2 separate regions of the Homo sapiens genome follow, and region 1 is linked to region 2. A link means that fine-mapping ties the variant in region 2 to the expression of a gene that starts in the linked region. Tissue or cell type: whole blood. Region 2 holds a variant in brackets; the other region holds the start of a gene. All regions are shown on one strand. Distances are between the middles of the regions. Region 1 holds the start of RAVER2 (ribonucleoprotein, PTB binding 2). Region 2 overlaps RAVER2 (ribonucleoprotein, PTB binding 2).

The links.
Region 1: it holds the start of RAVER2, and the variant in region 2 is fine-mapped to the expression of RAVER2 in whole blood (TOPMed, PIP above 0.99). The same link has a PIP of 0.9 or more in visceral fat.

What each region holds. Positions count from the first base shown.
Region 1 is chr1:64,741,961-64,747,341 of GRCh38, forward strand. RAVER2 (ribonucleoprotein, PTB binding 2) reads left to right here and starts at 3,115. Exons shown (of 12, transcript NM_001366165.2): 1 at 3,115-3,461. The coding sequence starts at 3,213. RefSeq lists silencers at 2,769-2,868, 2,889-3,088.
Region 2 is chr1:64,773,573-64,778,953 of GRCh38, forward strand. It overlaps RAVER2 (ribonucleoprotein, PTB binding 2), which reads left to right. Exons shown (of 12, transcript NM_001366165.2): 3 at 4,051-4,520. Among named protein-coding and RNA genes, the nearest start is that of RAVER2, 31 kb to the left of the region's middle. The variant G/T (reference allele first, on the strand shown) is at 2,216.

The sequences.
Region 1 (5,381 bases), 32 kb before region 2:
CATTGGGGCCAAAACTGGAATTACATTATCATAACTCCCAAAACATAATCAACACCTGATTCATTCACCAGACTTAACCTCAAATAACATTTAATTATTTCCAAAAATTAAACCCATCTCTAAGAGGTGAGTATTTGCTACCACATAAACTATGCAGAATAATTTGCTGTAGATTATAAAGTCAATTCCAAAAAAGCACTTTGGGGCTGGGCGTGGTGGCTCACGCCTGTAATCCCAGCACTTTGGGAGGCCGAGGCGAGCGGATCATGAGGTCAGGAAATCAAGACCATCCTGGCTAACATGGTGAAACCCCGTCTCTACTAAAAATACAAAAAATTAGCTGGGCTTGGTGGCACACGCCTGTAGTCCCAGCTACTCTGGAGGGTAAGGCAGGAGAATCGCTTGAACCTGGGAGGCGGAGGTTGCAGTGAGCCAAGATCACGCCACTGCACTCCAGCCTGGGCAACAGAGCAAGACTCCGTCACAAAAGAAAAAAAAAAAGCACTTTGGAGAATGTTTTGAGCAAAAGCAATCACTGAAGTTATATTCAGACCACTATCCGTTTGCATATTTATTATATTTAATTATAATCATTGCATAATTTTCTCTCAGTGAGACTTAGCCCCTATTGTACAGGAGCATTATTTTACTATTTCTGTCTTCTTATTGCCTTTATATATTATCTAGCACATAAGGGACATTTAATAAATGTTTGCCAAGGAGGTGGTACTCATTTGGATAAATACATGTTCTGAAACATAATGAATGACTCAAGGTTACAGCCTATGCTAAGGCTATTCATGCTTCTTCACTTCAAAGAATGTACTTTTCAAAGTCTCTCAGCTCTACAAAATAGGGCCTTATTGGAGTTTAAAATGTATACCTTTTAAAATCAAAGGAATACAATTTAAAAGCAAAATGATACATTAATACTAGAATATCATGGATGCAAGCAGAGAAATAAGTGCTCTTATACAATGCTTGTGATAGGGAAAACTGAGGTAAGTTTGTAAATACATACAAAAAATCCTTAAATATGCTTACTCTAGATGCAGAAATTTTGCTTCTAGTTCTTCACTCTGTGGAAAAGTAATGATCTTCAAATATGTATAGAGGGTTAAACTCAGTGCTGTTTACAATAGATAAAAATAATAGGAAATACTAATGCTAGGAAATAAGTGAATTTTCTAATTCAACAGAATAATATGCAGCCATAAAAACCATGGTATTCAAATACATTGGCATAGAAAGGGATTCAGCAGACATACTGTAAAAAGCAGAAAACAGAGCTGTAAACTACAGAATATCATTCAAAAACATTTTTATGCAGTAATAGTCACGTAATAAAATTAATATTTTAAAAGTGAATAGTTCAGTGACTATTTAGTACATTCATATTATTGGGCTACTGCCCCCTCTGTCTAGTTCCAAAACTAGATTTTCATCATTCCATAAGGATGTTTGCACCCATTACCTTCTCCTCCAGCCCTTGGTAAACACCAATCTGTGTTCCGCTCTATGAATCTACCTATTCTGATATTTTATACGCATGGAATCATACAATATATGACCTTTTGTCTCTGGCTTCTTTCATTTAATGCTTTGGAGGTTCGTCCACCTTGTAGGGGTCCTTAATTCCTTTTTATGGCTAAAAATATTTCTTAGCATATATATATCCCACGCTTTGCCTATCTGTTCATCAATAAATGGACATTTGGGTTGTTTCTATCCTTTGGTTACCAGGAATAGTGGTGGTATAGAAGGGTGTATTGCCGAATATCATTTTAATGATACAAGTATTAGCAGCCATTATTTTTGGGTGGACGGATTACGGGTGAATTATTTTATGTTATTCAGAACACTGGGCTTTGGAATCAATCAGAACAGATCCCATTTCCTCACGTGTAAAGTGAGGAAAACAAAACCTACGTAATTGAATGATCATGAAGAGTAAATAAATATGTATATGTAAAGCATTTAGAAATGCGTGGTTGGGGGGAGCACATGGTAAGGACTGAATTTGTAGTATTTTTAAAAAATCTTTAAAACATTTTGTTTTTCTTTTAATTAGTGTTAAAGTCTTTTTTTTTTTTTTTTTTTTTTTTTTGCTAGTGTACTTGCATGCTACACAATTAAGATGCATGGTCCCCTTCGCTGATGGTCACCTGGGCTAGTGCCAAAGGCTGCTGGATTGTTTGATCTGATGACATCCGTTTGACTAAGTATAGTTCTACACTGTAACTCTCCCTCCAAGTTTCAATTAAAATAATGTTCCAAGCAGCGTATTCTCCAGCCCCTCTGCCACAGCTCCTTTTCCATTCTAGTCTTTGTTTCAGCATCACTTTCCATGTTGCAGACCCAACTACCCAGGTTTTACATTTTAGGAACTGCATGACAGGGACAGAGGGACAGGTGAAGGGCACAGGCTTTCTCATACACAGCTAGCAAAATACATTACGATCAGGTTTTACCAAATACATAACATTTCTCCCACAATGTCCCTCTTTTTACTCCCCAGAAAATCTCATTGTAAACTCAAACTTTGCCAAATATGCTCTTCTTGAACCAACAGAAGGGTTACCATCGGGAGCCAGCCGGGCTGCAGGAGGCGCCCTCCTGCCACCCCTCCAGCCCCATCTCGGGTGTGGGAAGACCGAGTTCGCGCCCGCAGCCCCCGGGCCGCCCCAGCGCGGGAGTTTCGAGGGGAGCCGGGGGAGAGCTGCGGCGTCACATGGGGGGCCAGCCGGGGACAGGCGCCTGGGGCTGAGTCTCCCGGCGAAGCCACCGCGAAGGGGCCGCATCCCCCAGAGAACGACCCTGGGCGTTCGCGAAGGCCTCGCAGAGAGGGGGAGCCCGCCTGCGCGTCCGCGCCCTCACAGGTGTCCGGGTGGCGGCGCCCGGCCCCGCCTGCGGACCCGCGAGAGGCGGGCGCGGGCGCGCCTGTGCGCCGGGGCCGGGGGCCGGCGGGGGAGGTTCCCGCGAGGTGGTTCTCGGGCTCCTCCTCGGCGCCTCAGGTTTCCTCTCCCCGCCAGCAGGCTGCTGGCTGCGGCGCCGCCTCTCTCTACTCCCTCCTCCCACCGCCCCCCTTCCCCGCGGTTGGGCCCACTCTGCGGCCTCTGCCCGCCTCGCCCTCGCCCGGGCCTCCTCCCGCTTTCTCTCTCCGCTTCCCCTGGAGCCTCCGAGGAGTCCGCAGCCGCTGGGCGCCCGGGAAGATGGCGGCGGCGGCGGGAGACGGCGGCGGCGAGGGGGGCGCGGGCCTGGGCAGCGCGGCGGGGCTGGGGCCGGGGCCGGGGCTGCGCGGGCAGGGCCCCTCAGCCGAAGCGCACGAGGGCGCCCCGGACCCGATGCCCGCCGCGCTGCACCCTGAGGAGGTCGCCGCGCGACTGCAGCGGATGCAGCGGGAGCTGAGCAACCGCAGGAAAATCCTGGTGAAAAACCTGCCCCAGGACAGCAACTGCCAGGTACTGGGACGGTGATAGGGGCGACGCGTCCCGAGGGGCGGCGGGGCGGCGCTCCGTGTCCAGGCTGGGATCGGGGGCGCCTCAGAGCGGTCCTGGGGAGTGGGTCGGCGCCGAGTGGTGAGAGCGGCCCCTCGGTTTGACTGAGTTCTTGGGGTTTCTAGCCTGCAGACGCCCTGCCAGGGAGGGGGGCAGATTGGGAAACTGAGGCTCTGAGTGGCGAAGCGGCTTCTCCAAGGTCACGGGAATCAGGGGCTGCTGCCTCCAAGTTCGGCCCGGTCTTTCCTTCCCCTACGGCCGTAGAGGAGTAGGAGGTGAAGGAGAGTGGAGGTGAGTTGTGGAGCACACATTTTGCGGGGGGGAGCGGGGGTAGAGGGGGCCGAAGCTTCGGGAGCACCTTGGCAGGGGCGAGGGCTCCAACGTATAGTCCCCGGTGCTCGGGAGTGCCATAGGGGGCAGGGGCACGAGAGAGCTGGGAGTGAGTTTCGCTGTTGTTGCAGAAGCACTTGCCCAAGTTTCTATGAAACAACTCTGTCTTCTCAGTTTGCTAAGGCCCCAGAATAGAGTTATTGCTGCGCTCCTTGGAGCCTTGCAGCCGCCTCCTGCTACGCCAAGTACAGTACTGGAGGGTTTGTTCTCAGTGACTTGGATGAGGTTTAAAGATAGCTACTCTGTGTATTTAATCCAGATTAACTGTTGCTTTTAAGATTAGAAACTCTGCATCTATTTAACTTTTTTTTTCCCCTGATTTCAAAAGCTGCATGCTCATTGTAGGAGAGCTAGGAAAGACAGAGAAGCACAAAGGGGACACAGAAATTACCCATATTTCTGATACCTGAAGATAACCATTGTTATCCTGGGATGTTGTTCTTTTCTCTTTTCCTATGCATATATATTTTTGTTTTATCAAAAGCTTGAAATCATTTCTTTGATTCTTCAGGATTTCTTAGCTGTCTGGATGTTCACACATGTTTCACATATAACCTGAATTTATATACTGCTCCGAGTGTGGTGGGCTGTCCTGGTAGTTGCGGATTTGTAGTTCCTCCTGTAACCGGATGCATGAAATTGCAAGAGGGCTGGCTATTGACAATTGCATGGCAGTTCTTCCATGTGACTTATAAAATAATGAGACCAATGCCCCATTACTATGTAATGAGACCTTACATAGCCATTCACAATAAATATGAACATATAACCTTATAACCCGTAGGCATGGGGGGCTATTTTGTTTCAAAATGCAGTGTCTGTCAGTATTGTTTATCTCATCTGTCTTTCAACTCTTTCCATTCCGCCATGGTCCACTTCCCATCTGTCAGGTAATGTTTTGTGATACTACCTGTTAAGGACACCTGCAATGGACTGATTTCTTGGAAGCAGCCTCCCCTGCCCATACAAATAGAGGACTGTAAGGGAGCTCAGGAAGGAGGAGGCTTGGAAGAAGCAGATGGCATTTTTTAAAAAAACAAATTTAAAAAATAGCAGCTCTTTGTATAGACAGTCTAGGAGGAGAGAAATAGAGAAGTATCTCAATGTCTTTGTAGAATGTCAGCTGTTTTTGTTATCACAATTCCTTGCATTAATTCTAAATATATTTAGACCCCAAATTGAAGACGTTCTGTCTATTCTTGCTTTGCTGTTGGTATCTTTCTCATTTCCCTTCGCAATAGACATGAAAAATATATCAAAGGGTCTAATAAAAGGAGCAGTTTTAATTAGTGATAGAAGCTTTCTCAGAATTACACTGGGATTTGTATTTTTGAGATTTCATCTACTTAAACTAATATTTTCATATGTTCTGCATGAATTTTTTTGTATTTTTTGTTTTAACAATTTCCCTTAATTATAATGTCTGCTTTTTCTTAGTGACTATATTTTACTGTCAACTTACTGATGAAAGTTTCACTTTATTTTATTTTGTGT
Region 2 (5,381 bases):
TCTATCATTGTTGGACATTTGGGTTGGATCCAAGTCTTTGCTATTGTAAATAGTGCTGCAATAAACATACGTGCACATGTGTCTTTATAGTAGAATGATTTATAATCCTTTGGGTATATACCCAGTAATGGGATAGCTAGGTTAAATGATATTACTAGTTCTAGATCCTTGAGGAATCGCCACACTGTATTCCACAGTGGTTGAACTAATTTACACTCCCACCAACAGTGTAAAAGCATTCTTATTTCTCCACATTCTCTCCAGCATCTGTTGTTTCCTGACTTTTTAATGATCGCCATTCTAACTGGTGTGAGATGGTATCTCATTGTGGTTTTGATTTGCATTTCTCTGATGACCAGTGATGATGAGCATTTTTTCATGTGTCTGTTGGCTGCATAAATGTCTTCTTTTGAGAAGTGTCTGTTCATACCCTTTGCCCACTTTTTGATGGGGTTGTTTTTTTCTTGTAAATTTGTTTGAGTTTTTTGTAGATTCTGGATATATTAGCCCTTTGTCAGATGGATAGATTGCAAAAATTTTCTCCCGTTCTGTACGTTGCCTATTCACTCTGCTGATAATCTTTTGCTGTGCAGAAGCTCTTTAGTTTAATTAGACCCCATTTGTCAATTTTGGCTTTTGTTGCCATTGCTTTTGGTGTTTTAGTCATGAAGTCTTTGCCCATGCCTATGTCCTGAATGGTATTGCCTAGGTTTTCTTCTAGGGTTTTTATGGTTTTAGGTCTTACGTTTAAGTCTTTAATCCACCTTGAGTTAATTTTTGTATAAGGTGTAAGAAAGGGATCCAGTTTCAGCTTTCTGCTTATGGCTAGCCAGTTTTCCCAATCCCTTTCTTAAATAGGGAATCCTTTCCCCATCGCTTGTTTTGGCAGGTTTGTCAAAGATCAGATGGTTGTAGATGTGTGGTGTTATTTCTGAGGCCTCTGTTCTGTTCCATTGGTCTGTGTATCTGTTTTGGTACCAGTACCATGCTGTTTTGGCTACTGTGGCCTTGTAGTGTAGTTTGAAGTCAGGTAGCCTGATGCCTCCAGCTTTGTTCTCTTTGCTTAGGATTGTCTTGGCTGTGTTGGCTCTTTTTTGGTTCCATATGAAATTTAAAGTAGTTTTTTCCAATTCTGTGAAGAAAGTCATTGGTAGTTTGATGGGGATAGCATTGAATCTATAAATTACTTTGGGCAGTATGGCCATTTTTACGATATTGATTCTTCCTATCCATGAGCATGGAATGTTTTTCCATTTGTTTGTGTCCTCTCTTATTTCATTGAGCAGTGGTTTGTAGTTTTCCTTGAAGGGGTCCTTCACATCCCTTGTAAATTGTATTCCTAGGTATTTTATTCTCTTTGTAGGAATTGTGAATGGGAGTTTCCTCATGATTTGGCTCTCTGTTTGTCTGTTATTGGTGTATAGGAACGCTTGTGATTTTCCCACATTGATTTTGTATCCTGAGACGTTGCTGAAGTTGCTTATCAGCTTAAGGAGATTGTGGGCTGAGATGATGGGGTTTTCTAAATATACAATCATGTCATCTGCAAACAGAGAGAATTTGACTTCCTCTTTTCCTAATCGTTTTGTTTTTTGGCAGAGATAGGATGAAAATCGTGAGTTATGTTTGGGAGTCAATATGAAGATATATGTGGCACTAAAGGTTAGAAAGATAGATTGGGGAGTATAATGGTATGGGAGGCCTTTTGCAAGTCCTCAGATGAGATTATTTTGCTCATTGCTTTCATAGCCCCTCATACTTCCCCTTTGGGGACACCACATTTGTAACTCTTTGTTAAATGTCTAGCTTCCCCTATTAGATTGTGAGCTCTGTGTTGAAAGGGATCTTACCTGTTCTGTTCACCAAAACATTTCCAGTGCCAAACTTGGAATCTGGCACATGATACGGAATACATGGGAATGGGTGTGATTGCCCCCAGAGGAAGAGGGTGTAGAGTGCGAAAAAAGATATTCAGCGGCCACACATTGAGTAACACATGTGGCCACACAGGTGTTACTGTGTGTGACTCTGCCAGGAAGGCACCCCAAGGAGTACTACCTTACAGCTGTGAGTGGAGGAGAAAGAGCTAGCAAAGGAAATAGAAGAAAGAGCTTGGACAGTTATGAAGCAAATCAAGAAAGAGTACATCAAGAAAGTTAAGAAAGGCCTGGTGCAGTGGCTCAGGCCTATAATCCCAGCACTTTGGGAGGTTGAG[G/T]TTGGTGGATCACTTGAGGTCAGGAGTTCGAGACCAGCTTGACCAACATGGCGCAACCCCATCTCTACTAAAAATACAAAAATTAGCCAGGCGTGGTGGCAGGCCCTGTAGTCCCAGCTACTTGAGAGGCTGAAGCAAGAGAATTGCTTGAACCTGGGAGGCAGAGGTTGTGATGAGCTGAGATCGGCACCACTGCACTCCAGCCTGGGCAACAGAGTCAGACTCTTGTCTCAAAAAAAAAAAAAAAAAAGGAAAGAAAGTTAAGAAAGGGAATGATTAACAGGTTCAAATGCCCTGAGAATTCAAGTTAAATATGACCTGAGATTTTATGGGCTGATACGAGAATATAACCAGTATTTACAAACTGTTGTTGGCTCGTTTGTTTTAGGGAAACAGAATTAAATTGTATTTTATGTCAGCATAAGGAAAAAAGACATAGAATCAAAATCAAGCCTTTTAAAAAAGATTGTTAGAAACTAAGAGATAGCCTTTTAATAAGGGCAGTAAAGCCATTTTTTCTCATTTTTTGGAAGAGATGTTGGAACAGTTAGCTGTTCCTTTGGCAATAGTTTTCTTGCGTGTGGGACATGTGTTAAATGAAAAATGTGTTTCTTTAAATGTTAGCATCACACTTAGTGTGGTGAGATGCTCTTACTCTGAGAGCCGCATGGCACTAAGACCAATTGAGGGCAGAGAAGTTTAGTGAAATGACAGGCAGAATTGCCCATGCTACTTAAATTACTTCTCTGTCTCTTGCTATATCCATATTTGCTGTATACAACATATTGTCATGCAGTTCTAATTGAATTTGGGTAAATTAAATGTTCATATGGAGTAACTTCACTATATATTTCAGAGGGAGAGGGAGAGGAACTTGTAGAGAGCAATTTATTTGTAATTTGTGGATTGCTATGTATTTTTTAATGGGGGCTTTAAACTTTTCCTATAAAATTGCTCAAAACCTTTTATATTCTTTTATTGCAAAAGGTAAACAAATTGATATGGTTAAAATGTAATTTTACCAGATATGAATGTACATAATATTTCATTGATTTAGAATGTTATATTTGTATTATGTTTCCAGTTATATAAGCCGTCATATGCATTTGTTGCTTGATGCTGGAACAACTTCATTAGCTAGACAGGGCAGACTATTTTTATTGTTTTATGAATATTCAAGATCTTGTCTTAAGATCAGAATCCTGTAACCTTTTCATTTGATATTATTCATCAAAAGTGTACCAAATTAAAAGTGTCTGTGTGTTATGTCAATCTAATCTGATATTAAGGAAATATATACATGAATTGGAGAAAGAAATGGCCTCCTTTATGCATTTTGATGTTTTTGCTGTACCTTCATTTTTTCAGGTCCTTGCTGTCAAATAGGCTCTTTTAGAACTCTTTCTAGGAAGAAAGAAAGATTTTGTAACTTCATTTTTATTTCAGTTAAGTTTTATATAAAGTCTTCATAAAATTTTATATCACAGGTTTTTGGGTGGGAGGAAATCAAATATGTGTGTGATTGGAAAAGACTACCAAAAACCCCCCAGAATATCATAGGATTTTACAGTGAAACTCCTAATATAATCCCTGTACTTTCTATTTTGGGTTACTGTTGATGAAATTAGTTTAATGGAGGTGTCAGCATTAAAAAACGCACTGAAATAGAATAAAAAATGTCACAATGCATTGCATATAGTAGGGGTATTAACTTATAATTTTGTTTCAGAAAAAAGGTGTATGTTTATGTGTACCAAGTCACAGAAGTAAGATATATTTCTTACTGTGTTTTCAAACAATTTGAAAACTCTTTAATTCATTTCGTTATCTTCCAGCTTTTGTTACCTTATTGAATGGGGAACAAGCCCAGAACGCAATTCAGATGTTTCATCAATATTCTTTTAGAGGAAAAGACTTAATAGTCCAGCTTCAGCCAACAGATGCTTTGTTGTGTATTACCAACGTGCCCATTTCTTTTACATCAGAAGAGTTTGAAGAACTTGTTCGTGCTTATGGAAATATTGAGAGATGTTTTCTGGTCTATAGTGAAGTTACTGGCCATTCCAAAGGCTATGGATTTGTGGAATACATGAAAAAGGACTTTGCTGCAAAGGCTAGACTGGAGCTATTGGGTAGACAGTTGGGAGCATCAGCACTCTTTGCACAATGGATGGATGTTAATCTATTGGCTTCAGAGCTCATTCATTCTAAGTGCCTTTGTATTGATAAACTCCCCAGTGACTACAGGGATTCAGAAGAGCTGTTGCAAATTTTTTCCAGTGTCCATAAACCTGTGTTTTGCCAGGTATGTATTTTTAAGAGATTATTGAAATATTTTAAAATATATACATATGTATCTAATCTACATACACTCACAAATTTATCATACCTGTGTGATTAACACAATGGAAATTTAATTCTGCATCATTCTGTAGGGAAGACTTTGATCTCATGGGAAATTTTAAATCAGTTCCTCTGTTTATGGGCCAAAGTATGTTGTTATGTAGTTAAGTATGCCTTAGCAAATCCATTGCTTACTCATTCACCTCATTCCATCCATTCGTCCCACCATTTTTCCATCAATCCATTTATCTATCCAACTTTTATTTACCATCTTCTGTGTACCAGACACTATGCCAAGTGTCAGAAAGGCAGAGAATGGAAAGATACTCTATCTCAATACCTCACAATTTTGTAGAAGAGACGGACAAGTAAGCAAATAATTGCAAATCCTATATGAAGAGTGATATAATGGAGGATAGAAAAGTACTATGAAGTTTAAAAGGAATGTGTAGTTCTATCTTAATGTGGTCACGGTAGGTGAGACATCTAGAGAAGATCCTGAAAACTGATAACACTGGCGAGACTTTTCAAGCACTTTATCATAGTAAAATTAAATACATTCTAATAAATATATATATATATACTATATATAACACTTTTCCTTACAGAGTTTTGATAGCAACTGATCAATTATTTCTCTCTTGTTTCTCTCCATTTCTTCCTTCTCCGTTTTCCTTTTTACCGCACTCCCTTCCCATCCACGCTCCTTTTCCTCTTACCTCTGTTGTTTCCTCTCCTCCTTTGCATCTTTTCTTTAATCATACATTTGTTGATTTCCTAGTATTGCAGTAGAAATTTTGGAGTTGGAGTACATATCTATATA